Linked DNA regions of Homo sapiens: all the other regions are linked to region 1. Evidence: fine-mapped expression QTL. A gene starts in region 1. Each other region holds a variant in brackets. All regions are shown on one strand. Distances are between the middles of the regions.

The links. PIP is the estimated chance that this variant, and not a neighbour inherited with it, causes the effect.
Region 2: its variant is the best candidate, but not a certain one, in a credible set for the expression of ABCA1 in fetal neocortex (Walker 2019, PIP 0.89).
Region 3: its variant is the best candidate, but not a certain one, in a credible set for the expression of ABCA1 in nasal epithelium (TOPMed, PIP 0.60).

Annotation. Positions count from the first base shown.
Region 1 is chr9:104,926,021-104,930,107 of GRCh38, forward strand. It overlaps ABCA1 (ATP binding cassette subfamily A member 1), which reads right to left and starts at 2,135. Exons shown (of 50, transcript NM_005502.4): 1 at 1,915-2,135. It overlaps LOC105376196 (a long non-coding RNA gene), which reads left to right and starts at 769. Exons shown (of 3, transcript NR_188620.1): 1 at 769-1,890; 2 at 3,488-3,704. RefSeq lists silencers at 529-768, 2,105-2,294 and enhancers at 1,445-1,504, 1,825-1,904.
Region 2 is chr9:104,896,179-104,900,265 of GRCh38, forward strand. All of the region lies in intron 2 of ABCA1 (ATP binding cassette subfamily A member 1), which reads right to left. Among named protein-coding and RNA genes, the nearest start is that of ABCA1, 30 kb to the right of the region's middle. The variant AAAATAAAT/A (reference allele first, on the strand shown) is at 2,371.
Region 3 is chr9:104,901,318-104,905,404 of GRCh38, forward strand. ABCA1 (ATP binding cassette subfamily A member 1) reads right to left here. Exons shown (of 50, transcript NM_005502.4): 2 at 2,297-2,454. The coding sequence starts at 2,362. Among named protein-coding and RNA genes, the nearest start is that of ABCA1, 25 kb to the right of the region's middle. RefSeq lists an enhancer at 1,856-2,768. The variant G/GC (reference allele first, on the strand shown) is at 2,437.

The DNA of each region.
Region 1 (4,087 bases):
AAAAAAGAAAAAAAAATCAAGAAAATTCCACTCTTTAACTTGGGGGAAATTTTTGTGAGGTTCTCTTCGTGGGAAGCAGGGATTCGGCCATGGAGGGCAAGTGACTTGCTGATTTCAGTACCCAGAAGGTTTTTTTAAATATGAAATTTGTCCACTATGAGATGAATGTGTATATACTACCCATTCTCTTCTTGAAGTGTCAATGAAAAGTCGGATTTTAAAAGCTAATGGTATCAGTGCTGCAAAGGCAGGCCAATTACTGCCAGTGCCAGACAACTTTTTTCTTTGTTTATTTTTAATCTTATTTCTTTGCTTCTTTTTGATAAAAGATATACCTAAAGAGGCACCTACACATAACCCTGGCACCGTCCGCCGCCCCAAGAACCTTCCTGCTTTACCAATGGCCTGGGAGTTGGCAAACACGCTAACAAAAAAAAAAACCAAAAAAACAAAAAAAAAAAAACAAAACGGGCTTTCGCCTCAACCTCATAGTTCCTCCCCGTCTGCAACCACCGGTCTTCACCGGATTCACAGTCGGAACCGCGAGCAAAGACACCTAGTAGAGCCGGCCGATTCCTAGGTCCTCCGGCCAGGAGGCGCTGCGGGCCAGTCTCCGGGGGCCACCGCAGCCCGCGCGCCCAGCACCCCCACCCTCACGGCAGAGCCCAGCCCAGCCCCGCGGCGGAGCTCCGAGTTCTGCGCCGCCCGCCGGGGTTACTCCCGGTCATTCCACGGCACCACCTCGGCCCAGCTTCCCCATCTGCGCCCAGGCAGAAGCTGCCCCGAGAGACCAGCAGCAACGGTCTGGAAGATGGGGCTGCAGGGAACGTGGGAGAGGGAGGATTGGGCACCCCACCTCCGGGTCTCCGCAGGCTCTCCTAAGTCTTGTTTTTAAAAGAAACAAAACTCGGCCGCGCGCGGTGGCTCACGCCTATAATCCCAGCACTTGGGGAGGCCGAGGCCGGTGGATCACCTGAGGTCGAGGGTTCGAGACCAGCCTGGCCAACAAGTTGAAACCCCGTCTCTACTAAAAATACAAAAATTAGCTGGATGTGGTGACGCGCCTGTAATCCCAGCTACTCAGGAGGCTGAGGCAGGAGAATCGCTTGAACCCGGGAGGCGGAGGTTGCAGTGAGCGGAGATCGTTCCATTGCACTCCAGCCTGGGCGACAGACCGAGACTTAAAGGAAAGAAAAAAAAGAAAAAGAAAAGGAAACAAAACTCGTCCGCGCTCTGCGCCAGGGACACCAGCTCAGCTGAGCGCACGGAGACTGTAGGCAGGACCTCCCTACCCCTCAGGTCAAACAAAGACCCAAGGCCTCTAGTGAGCAATAGCACCACGGACCGTTTGGGACACCTCCAACTCGAGTTCCCGGATTCACAGTCCGGGACTGTGCCGCTCCAGTCCCGGGGAGCATATAGCCAATTCCCAGGTCAGAACAGACCAGCTTCTTAAGAACCGAGTGAAGACTCAGTGCTGGCATTTGTCTCCGTAGGTACTGGCCGACCTGCAACCAGAAGGGTTTCTAGCCAGCTCAGGGCCCTCCGAACAAAGCAGCGCTCGGTGCCGGACCTGCAGCTCTCCCCACCCGGCAGCAGCGCCCTCAGCACGCCCGGGAACCCCCGACCCCTCTGAGCCCGGGGTACTGCGCCCGGGTCTCCACGCCCAGAGATGCTCCCCGGTCTCCACCGTCGGGCAAGCCCCAAGCGCAGCAGCGCAGAGTCCTGGGGTCACCAGAGCTCGTACTAGGACATCGTCTCCCCATTTAACACCGCCTCCGGTCCCATCTGAGTTGCAAGTGGTGGGGATGTGGGGCTCCGGATCAAAGTCCCCGAAACCGAGCACTTCCCGAAGCCTCCTTGGCCTCGAAACAAAACAATAACGCCCAAGTAAGTCACTGGAGAGCCTCTTACCTGTTTTCCACTTTTGTGTTTGCGTCTCTTTCTCCTACCCCTTGACAAGCCTTCCGGAGAAGGGGAGAAAACAGAACCGGGGAAAAAACAAGGAGCAAAGCGCCCTGAGAACCGGCTCTGTTGGTGCGCGGAGCTCCCCGCCCTGCCCTGCCGCAGCCCGGGAGAGAAGGGTCGGCTCGGCTCTGCGGGTCCCGGCCCCACTCACTCTCGCTCGCAATTACGGGGTTTTTGCCGGGACTAGTTCCTTTTATAGATTCGGCTGCACCGAGCGCAGAGGTTACTATCGGTCAAAGCCTGTGCTCTCCCTCCTCCCCGCCCCGTTCCCGGCCTCTGTTTATGTAGTTCAGTCACTCAGCAGAAAGCACGTGGAGCCGGGGCCCGCCCCTTAAACGGGCGACGTTCAGCCGCCCACGACACATCTAGGGAGTTGGGGGGAGGTGGGTGGGGTGGGGGTGGAGGGTACAGCAGGTGTCTTAGGGTCCGCGGTCTGCGTCCCCTTCCCCCGCCCGGGCCCGCCGGCCTAAGACGCGCGGGAAGCGCTGGGCTCGGGGCTGCGCCGCAGACTCTCTAGTCCACGTTCCCGGCAGCCAAGGGCACCAGTGGAATTTGCTTCCTCTAAATCCTGCTTTCCGCAATTTTTTTTTCCTTTGTTAGTTTCCTCAGCCGGAGGGAGGGATTGGGGGAGAGAGAGCTCTAGGCTGAATCTCCCTCAGGACGCCAATCATTTTGTCTTGTCTTTTGTTTCCTTTCAAAGGCCTAGGCTGGGGTGAGGGGAAGGCGGACAGTCCTCTGGGTAATGGGCTGCTTTTGTTTTCCCCCCACAAACCTGGACTTTGATTTTTGATAGGCGACCTACTGCCTTGGAGATTCCCAGCCTGAGCTCCCCAGGTCCCTCAGAGGACCCGAGAGGAACATCTTACTGCTTCTCTTCATAAATTGAGAGGAAGGAGGCCACAAAAACAAAAAAAGAAACAAACAAACAAAAACACAGAACAATATGGACCAGCCCCCTTTTAATTTCATTATATTGATCAGCCTCCCTGTGATAAAAACACAGGACTTGTATTTAGTTTGTATACATTTGTGAAGTGCAGCCAGAGAATTGCAGTCGTGTAAAATTATGTAGCCACTCCAGACCTCCAACTTATCTGTTTGCCTTTGGCTGTAGGGGAGCAAAACTACCCAAAACACTGGAGGGGCAAAAAAAAAGGCAAGAGTAGGAATGCAGGCCTACACACCATATGTCTAAATATTTAAGTCATCCATCAAGCCAACAAACTAAATGTCACCTTATTCTGGCCAAAACTCAGGTCAAACTGTGAAGAGTCTAAATATGAATCTGCCCTGAAGGGCAGATTCATAGAAGACTCAGGACAGACCCGTAGAAGAGGCCCAAGCAGGCCCTGGAAGTGCACGTGGAGGCCACAAGGTCTCCTACCTTGACAAAGATACCTTTGTAGCCACCTTGAAGGGCAGATTCACATTTAGACTCTTCACAGTTTGACCTGAGTTTTGGCCAGAATGAGGTGGCATGAGAGAGCTGCCCCAAGCCTACTTCTCTTCCCACCTCCAGCTCCATCATATTCCAGAACTCCCACCACCTGCATACAGACATTCAGCTGCACAAGCCCCCTCCATGCTACAGTCAACAGGATCTCCAGGCCACGGCTCAAGCCCAGGTACTCACATCAGTGGTTCTATCAACACTCAGGACAGACCCATAGAAGAGGCCCAAGCAGGCCCTGGAAGTGCATGTGGAGGCCACCAGGCAAGGAATTCTGGAGTCCCAGGTACTCATAACTCTGGGTGGCATGGCCCCTTTGCACCATGGACTGTTTGCCCTTAGAAAGGGATGGATCTGAGCTGGGCGCAGTGGCTCATGCCTGTAATCCCAGCACTTTGGGAGGCCAAGGTGGGCAGCTCACCTCAGGTCAGGAGTTCGAAACCAACCTGGCCAACATGATGAAACCCAGTCTTTACTAAAAATACAAAAATTAGCCAGATGTGGTGGCGAGCGCCTGTTATCTCAGGAGGCTGAGGCAGGAGAATCGCTTGAACCCGGGAGGCAGAGGTTACAGTGAGTCGAGATCATGCCACTGCACTCCAGCCTGAGTGACAGAGCAAGACTCCGTGTCAAGAAAAATAAAAAGAAAGGGATGGATCTCAGAAAGGC
Region 2 (4,087 bases), 30 kb before region 1:
CAAGGTAAATTCTCCTAAATAATAGCATTGCTATTAGTCTCTGAAAACCAGTTAAATTAATATAATGTGGGGAAAAGAGAATACTATCCACAGTGAGAATGGACACATAAACAAAAAAACCTAGGCATTAACTTAGCCAAACATGTGCTTCTTACATAAAAGAAAACCACAGAACTGTAGTAGGATAAATAAAGGAAGATGAGAATTAAGGAGAGCTAAACTCTGCTTCTTCATGAGTTCATTTAATATCCAAATTTCCCAAGCTAATTTATAGATTTAACACAACTGAACTTAAAATAGCGATAGGGTACTTTTTTGAGCTTGATAAGGTAATAACATTCAATGGGGAAAAAACAGATAAAAATATCAAAAGATATTCTGAGAGGCAAAAAGGTAAGTGGGGGACAATGAGCTCCCCCATATATCAGAATGTTCATCAAATTCAGGGTACATTCTGGGCTCTATCAGCACCAAAACTAAAACTACATATCAAATGACCAAATGAATAACTCCAAAATTGCTCCCTACACATCTTTTTTTTTTTTTTTTTTTTTTTTTTTTTTTTTTTTTCAGACAGAGTTTCACTCTGTTGCCCAGGCTGGAGTACAGTAGTATGGTCATAGCTCACTGCAGCCTTGACCACCTGGACTCAAGCAATTCTCCTACCTCAGCCTTCCAAGTAGCTGGGACTCCAGGCAAGTACCACCATGCCTGACTAATTTCCTTATTTTTATAGAGATGGAGTCTTGCTATGCTGCCCAGGCTGGTGTTGAACTCCTAGTCTCAAGCAATCCCCCCACCTCAGCCTCCCAAAGTGCTGGGAATACAGGCATGAGCCACCATATCCAGGTTTTAATAAATGTCCCAAAAATAACTAGAAAAGGAATCACTATTTAATCAAGTGATTATTTATTAAATAATCACTGGGATGACATGATATGAATGTGAAGAAAAATTAATTTTAGACCCATCCCTAACAGCATACATGCCAATGAGACCTGGGAAAACTAAAGTGAAATCTTAAGGATCACATCAGAAAAATGCTAGAGAGGGGAAATGATTTTTAAAACCAGGCCTGCCTTCCCTGAACTACAAAGTCTCATGCATTGATGGTGGCTATTTAAATTGGTTGGATCCTCTGGAAAGACATCTGATCAGACACTTCAAGGGCCATTTCCCTTCAACCTAGTAATCCTGTTCCTCAGATTTTGGCCTACAGAAATAATACAAAAATAATAAAAGATTAAATGTATAGAATCTTTATAGTAATTTATTTGTAACAGCACACATGGAACAATCTAAATGTTGGCAACAGGGTTTGAACTTATAAAAACTGTGTTAATGGATTACTGCACAGCTATCAGGAATGTCAAAGGCATCATCCCACAGTAGATTTGGAGCCAAAAGATCCCAGCCCTCCTCTTAGCAACTTTTTATTTTTTGAGACAGAGTCTCGCTCTGTCACCCAGGCAGGAGTACAGTGGTGCAATCTTGGCTCACTGCAACTTCCACCTGCCAGGTTCAAGCAAATTCTCCTGCCTCACCCTCCCAAATAGCTGGGATTACAGGCAAGTGCTACCACGCCTGGCTAATTTTTGTATTTTTAGTAGAGATGGGTGTCACCACATTGACCAGGCTGGTCTCAAATTCCTGGCCTCAAGTGATCCGCCCACCTTGGTCTCCCAAAGTGCTGGAATTATAGGTGTGAGCCACCATGCCCGGCCATTAACTTATTAACAATACTCTCTTCATCTGTGAAACAGAAATTGCAACGCATACACCTCAGAATTGCTGTGAGAATCAAGAAAGTAATGGATATCAAAGTATTACTTTCAAAACTATAAAACACAGCCTACACATCAGAAATCATTATTCTAAATCAGAAGATGATTTAGAAATATGTGAACACGCACACTAAATAATGTTAAATGAAAGAAGAAAACAGCATAAAATGGTCCATGTATATGTAATGATTACAATTGCTTTCTTGGGCCTTTGTCATTCAAGTTCCCTCTATCCCAAGAGTCACCAGACAATGTGGCCTGACTACCTCAGGGAATCCTCTTGCACATAAAATAAAATTAAATTCTCAGGGGGCACTGTGGGTCACGCCTGTAATCCCAGCACTTTGGGAAGCCGAGGTAGGAGGATCACAAGGTCAGGAGTTTCAGACCAGCCTGGCCAATATGGTGAAACCGCATCTCTATAAAAATACAAAAATTAGCTGGGCATGGTGGTGGGCGTCTGTAATCCCAGCTACTAGGAGGCTGAGGCAGGAGAATCGCTTGAAACCAGGAGGCAAAAGTTGCAGTGAGCCGAGATTGCTCCACTGCACTCCAGCCTGGGCGACAGAACTAGACTCCGTCTTGA[AAAATAAAT/A]AAATAAATAAATAAATAAATAAATAAATAAATAAATAAATATTAAATTAAATTCTCCTTCCCCAGGAGAATTGGCCCTAAATGATCTGGTCATGTCTACTACCAACTCATCCCCCGCCAGTCTTATTCACTCCACCAGTGCCACTGGCTTTCTTCTGTTCCCTGACCTAGGGGACAGGCACCCCCAGTCTCTCTGCCTGGAATGGATTTCCCTATCTCTAAGCCTCTGATCTTTGCCTGGCTAACCATTGCTTGAACTTCAGGGCTCTCAGCTTTAATGTGACAACCTGTCAATCTAAATGAAATCCCTACCCACACCTGCTAGTATCTAACACCAGTACCATAGTTTGCCGGATTTTTTCCTTCATAATCCTCATCACAGTTGATAGTTATATTTTTATTTGTGTGATGATATGTTTCACATCTGCTGGCCTCACTGAACTGTAAGCTCTACGAAAGCAGTACTCATGCCCAGCTGCTTCACCACTATATACCCAGCTAACCATACCACAAGTAATAGATGCTTAATAGATATTTATCCAAATGAAACAATAAATGTCTATTTGTTTTAACTTTCTTCATTCCGTAGAAGAGAAAACTAAAGCTCTGGAGAAAGGAGTTTTCCTAGGCCACTGAGGCAGATGGTGGCCAAGCTGGGATTGGAATCATGACCACTGCTGCCGGCCCAGGAGTAAGGACAGGGAAGAAATGTGTCAGGTGAAACTAGAAGTGGGGAAAGGATGCAGAGAGTTTCCATCTACTCTGTAAAATTCTCTAAAAGCTCATAAATGAGGAGTTTTAATTTTTGGATAGTTCATTCTTTTTCATTAAAGAATGCCCAAATAGTGGTACTCTGGCTGGGTGCAGTGGCTCATGCCTGTAATCCCAGCAGATTGGAAGGCTGAGGTGGGTGGATCACTTGAGGTCAGGAGTTCAAGACCAGCCTGGCCAACATGCTAAAACCATGTCTCTACTAAAAATACAAAAATTAGCCAGGCGTGGTGCTGTGTGCCCATAATCCCAGCTACCCGGGAGGCTGAGGCATGACAATTGCTTGATCCCGGGAGGCAGAGGTTGCGGCGAGCTGAGATCATACCACTGCACTCCAGCCTGGGCAATAGAGTGAGACTCAGTTTAAAAAAAAAAAAATCACAATTAACTATTTTCCCAGCCACATGACTAGTCAGATCTATTTGAGAAAATTAATAATAAAGGCAAAAGAAAAGAGGCCATGTGGCCACCCTCACTTTGTCCAGTTTGTTCCATGGGGACCTTGGCCTCTGGATCAGCCTAAAACCAGATGAGGATCGTGAAAGCTCTGAAGTTCTCTTCCCCTTCCTGTCCCCAGCCCTGTTTGTACTGAATACCTGCCACCCACACAAGTTAACTGTTACTTTGGACCCAAACTGAGCTTTGCACCCAACTTTCACAACTCAATTCAATTTATTCTTTGCCTAACAGAAACAGCGGAAAACTAACCCTGGCTGATGGTCCCCCCTCAGTCTGCACAATGGGGGTACAGGAGAGGCAGGGGACCCAGGAGTTACCAGCAAACCAGGACACAGAATGAAAAGGCAAGCACTGCCTTTCAACAGGGTTGCTCTGGGGTATACCATTCAGCTCCAGGCTGAACATAGCGTTTCTAGTCTTCCTGGCGGCAGCACACAGGCTTTATGTATGCTTTCTATTCTTCCTAGTGCAAGGGAGCC
Region 3 (4,087 bases), 25 kb before region 1:
ACCTCAAGAAATCCCTTCCCTGCTTTGTACCTCAGCTTTCTCATCCGTAAAATAAGAGGTTCAGACTAGACTACCCCAGAGCCATAGCCCCCCTTTCATTGCCAACATGATATGATTCTTCCCACTACTCACTAATGGACACACAACATGGATAAACCATGGCGGAGACAATTTCCCAGCAAGTGGGCCCCCTCTACCAGGATAAGAAGGGGCAGGAGCCCTGGATCACACTGTAGCAAAGGAATAAGAGTAAGGACGGACATAGAGGACTGGAACACCAAGACCTGGGGATAACCACGGGAGGCAGGGAGAAAGGCAAGGAAGGAGTCAGAAACTTCAATATTCTCAGATGGAGAATAGGCAAAATAATGACACCACTGAAAAGCGATTAGGCACATTGAGTTAGAGTGCCAGCTCCAAAGTCAGATTATCTGGATTTGAACCCTACCTGTGCTCCTTGTTAGTGGTGTGGACCTCAGACAAGTTACTTAACCTCTCTGAGTAGCACGTTCCCCAGCTACAACATGTGGAAATAACAGTACATCGCGGGGCCTTAAAAGGAATAAATCTAGTTAATAATGCCTAATCAGTTAGTGCCTCACACATGGAAGCTCATTCTAAGTGTTTGCTTTTATTTTATTAATATAATATTATCTATTATACTTTACAATTATTATTAAAACAGATAGGATCCACAGATTCCAGTCCCTGTTCTCTCACTAGAGACCTCAGAATTCAGGTTCCCCATTTGTAACATGAGAGGCTGAACACAATCAGTTTTTCTCAAAGGAAGATCTGTATACATATTGCTGAGGGATTATATTTAAGTTCTCTAAGAGGATTTTAAACACTTTGTTTTCATTTCAACAGTCATCTAAACAAAGTCTAATAAACACATATGGATTTTTTAAATGCTTACTTTAAAGCCAAGTTCTGGCACAAGATTTCAAAGCCCAAGTTTATATTTGTGTTTATGATTGTGTTGGCACCAGTATAATTGTAGCAAACTCATGAGGATGGAACAGGTGCCATCAAATTAAGGTCATACAAGTAGAAAAATGGGTGGAGAATTCAATCATTAGCACATGATAATATAGACTGGCCAAACTCAAAATGATCAGCATGATAGCATTTACTGCCATGCAACTTATAATTTGGTTTCAGTTGAACAACAGCTGCCTCACCACATTTAAGGTATTAATTTGAATGGTATTGATTTTGCAATTTTGGCTGCACTTAATTTGTAAATATGTATGGGTCATATAGTTGTATAATAACAGCCTATAAGAAGTTTATACCTACTTTTACTTCCTAATATTTAAGTAACACTATAATAAAAAAGGAAATTTAGTGAACAAAAGGATGCTTTGACACTTTTGTTCTTTTACAGACAGTGCAAGCATTATTCTAGTTTGAGGAAAACTGAATGAAATTCTCTCCAAAGTCCCTTATAGCCCTTTGAATCTCAGAAAGATGATCATTTTGATTACAGACATGTTAAGCTACATTAAGACAGCCAAGTGGGGATACTGGCTTAGAATCCAGGAAAAAAAAATAAAGGCAGAACAGGAACAAGAGACTTAGAAACTAACTACAGAGAAATGCATCCTAGAGATGGGATCTCTAAGGAAGGGTGTTCAGAGATAGAGAGACAAAGAGCTGACGTCTGAGTTTCAGGGAGTTCACTCTGCTCTACAGCCCTCACATCCCTCTGTGGAAGAGTTCCATTCACCTGCGCATTAAAGATGATCTCCAGATTACTCAAAGCATTATTGGCCCATCTGGGAAGTGAATGGCTTAGAACCCTCTGCAGAAATAAAACAAGTCTCAGTTATTATATTCCTCCAGGCCTGAAGGAAAGAATCCAGATTGACACCAAGATACCCAGTATTGATCTCTAAGAGTGGGGCCACTAACTCACTTCACCCACAGCTTCCAGAAATACAGGGGCCCATTAGGGGCTTTTGGAGAGCCAGGTGGCTCCCAGGGCTGCAGCAAAAGGAAAAAGTGGGGTGCTCAGGGGCGATTCGGAGCCAGGTCCTAGGGATCAGAACTCATGCCTGGGCAGTAGCACAAACCAAAGCTACTATTTCTACCTGGCTGCAAATCTGCCCTCTATGATAAGCCACATGCCATATCCGGACCACACAGTCCTGTGTCCATAAGAGCCAGATTCCATCAATCCCTGTGTGAAAACCAACACAGCTTCCTTCCCTCCCTCCCTCCTCCAATCCCCAACTCAAAACCACAAAGAAAAAATGAGAGAACCCCCCGCTGCTGAAAAACCCAAGCTTACTGTTTGTCTTCTTCTGAAAGTGAGGTTCTTCCACAGCAGCAACCTCAGCTGAGGCCAACAAGCCATGTTCCCTCAGCCAGCACCCCCAGCGTGTGGCTCGGGAGCCCTGGAAGGCAGCGGCCAGAGCTCACAGCAGGGAC[G/GC]CCGTGGCTGGTCATTAACTGAAAGATAAAGCAGGAGGGGAAACAGCCATCAGTTATTGCTGCAAAGCCATACACCAATGAGGACTGCTAATCCAGCCCTCTCAGCTGAGACCTCCAACACACAGCTCTGCATCATGACTGCTTCTCAATGGATCATGAGTCACCAGCTCCCAGCCTCTGGGTTCACCCACAAAGAGGGACTCGGGAGGTGTTCCGACAGCAGGCTAGGAGCTACGTGTTATGGTCCTAATCATTTTAGTTCTATAGATGTTATCATCTGGGAATGAAGAATGCATTTCTGAAAATAGACCTCTCTCAGGTGGCCAAAAACACTGAGGATGGAAATGGCATACTGGAATCCCAGAGACCTACCTCTCTTTTCTAAGAAAATGCCTCCCCTTACATACAAAGTCAGCAGCATTTGTAAATTTTGCCTCAAGCCTGGAGTGACTTATACTATTCCCTGAACTTCCTTACATACTAATTTTCAGTGGGTTATACAACTGAGTCCTTCAAATGATAAAAAGCACCATCGGCCAGGCGTGGTGGCTCAAGCCTATAATCCCAGCACTTTGGGAGGCCGAGGCAGGCGGATCACGAGGTCAAGAAATCGAGACCATCCTAGCCAATACGGTGAAACCCCGTCTCTACTAAAAATACAAAAATTAGCTGGGCATGGTGGCAGGCACCTGTAGTCCCAGCTACTTGGGAGGCTGAGGCAGGAGAATCGCTGAACCTGGCAGGCGGAGGTGCAGTGAGCCAAGATTGTGCCACTACACTCCAGCATGGCGACAGAGCGAGACTCTGTCTCAAAAAAAAAAAAAAAAAGCACCATCAATAAAGCAGTTTCCTAATCTGGAAAACCACAACGTGCCTTAGATGAGTGTGAGTAAACACCAAGAAAATGCTACCGACACCTGGCTCTCAGGTAATGAGGACAACCCTAGCGCTGTGTCTCTGGAAAGAAAACAGCATCCCATGGAGAAACAAGTCTGCTATGGCAGGCTCAGGGCATCAACTGTGAAACCGACAAACAAGCTCCCATGGTCAGCACATATGCACACTTCTGGCCTTGTTCCACCTGCACCTGAACACACCGCCCCCCTACTCCGTTGGGTGTCACAGGTGCCTCCTTGGAGGACTGTTTGCCATGCTAGGGCAAGAAGGTCTTCTCGTGAACAAGGGATACTACATTCTGTGTATCCCAGCCACCCATCCAGCAGTTACCCTTATTTAATGCTGGAATAGTCCCAAGTAGTTATATTAAAGTTAAAGCTGGGGAGGGGGCAGAAGATGAAAAATGGAAGGGAGGACACACAGGTGAAAATTCGGCCCTGCTGGCACTTGGTAGCCATGAACTCTCCTAGCTGTGCTTATGAAATGGCTCAGTGAATCACTGTGGCCTCTAGAGGAGTAGGGGCAAGGGTAGGGTGGGACACTGGGCATGAGGAACAAGGAGCAGAAGGAACTAAGAATGCAGTAGCGAGGTATGGATACAAAACCAAGCGCTAGACTAGAAATCTGTGAGTCCAAATGAGATCTCCATGCCAAGGTCAGTCTCTAGTAGAACAATACCCTTTTATCTACCACCCAACAAGGACTTGGATTAAAACTTCTAGAAAAGTCAAGAGATTGGAGGAAATTGCAGTGT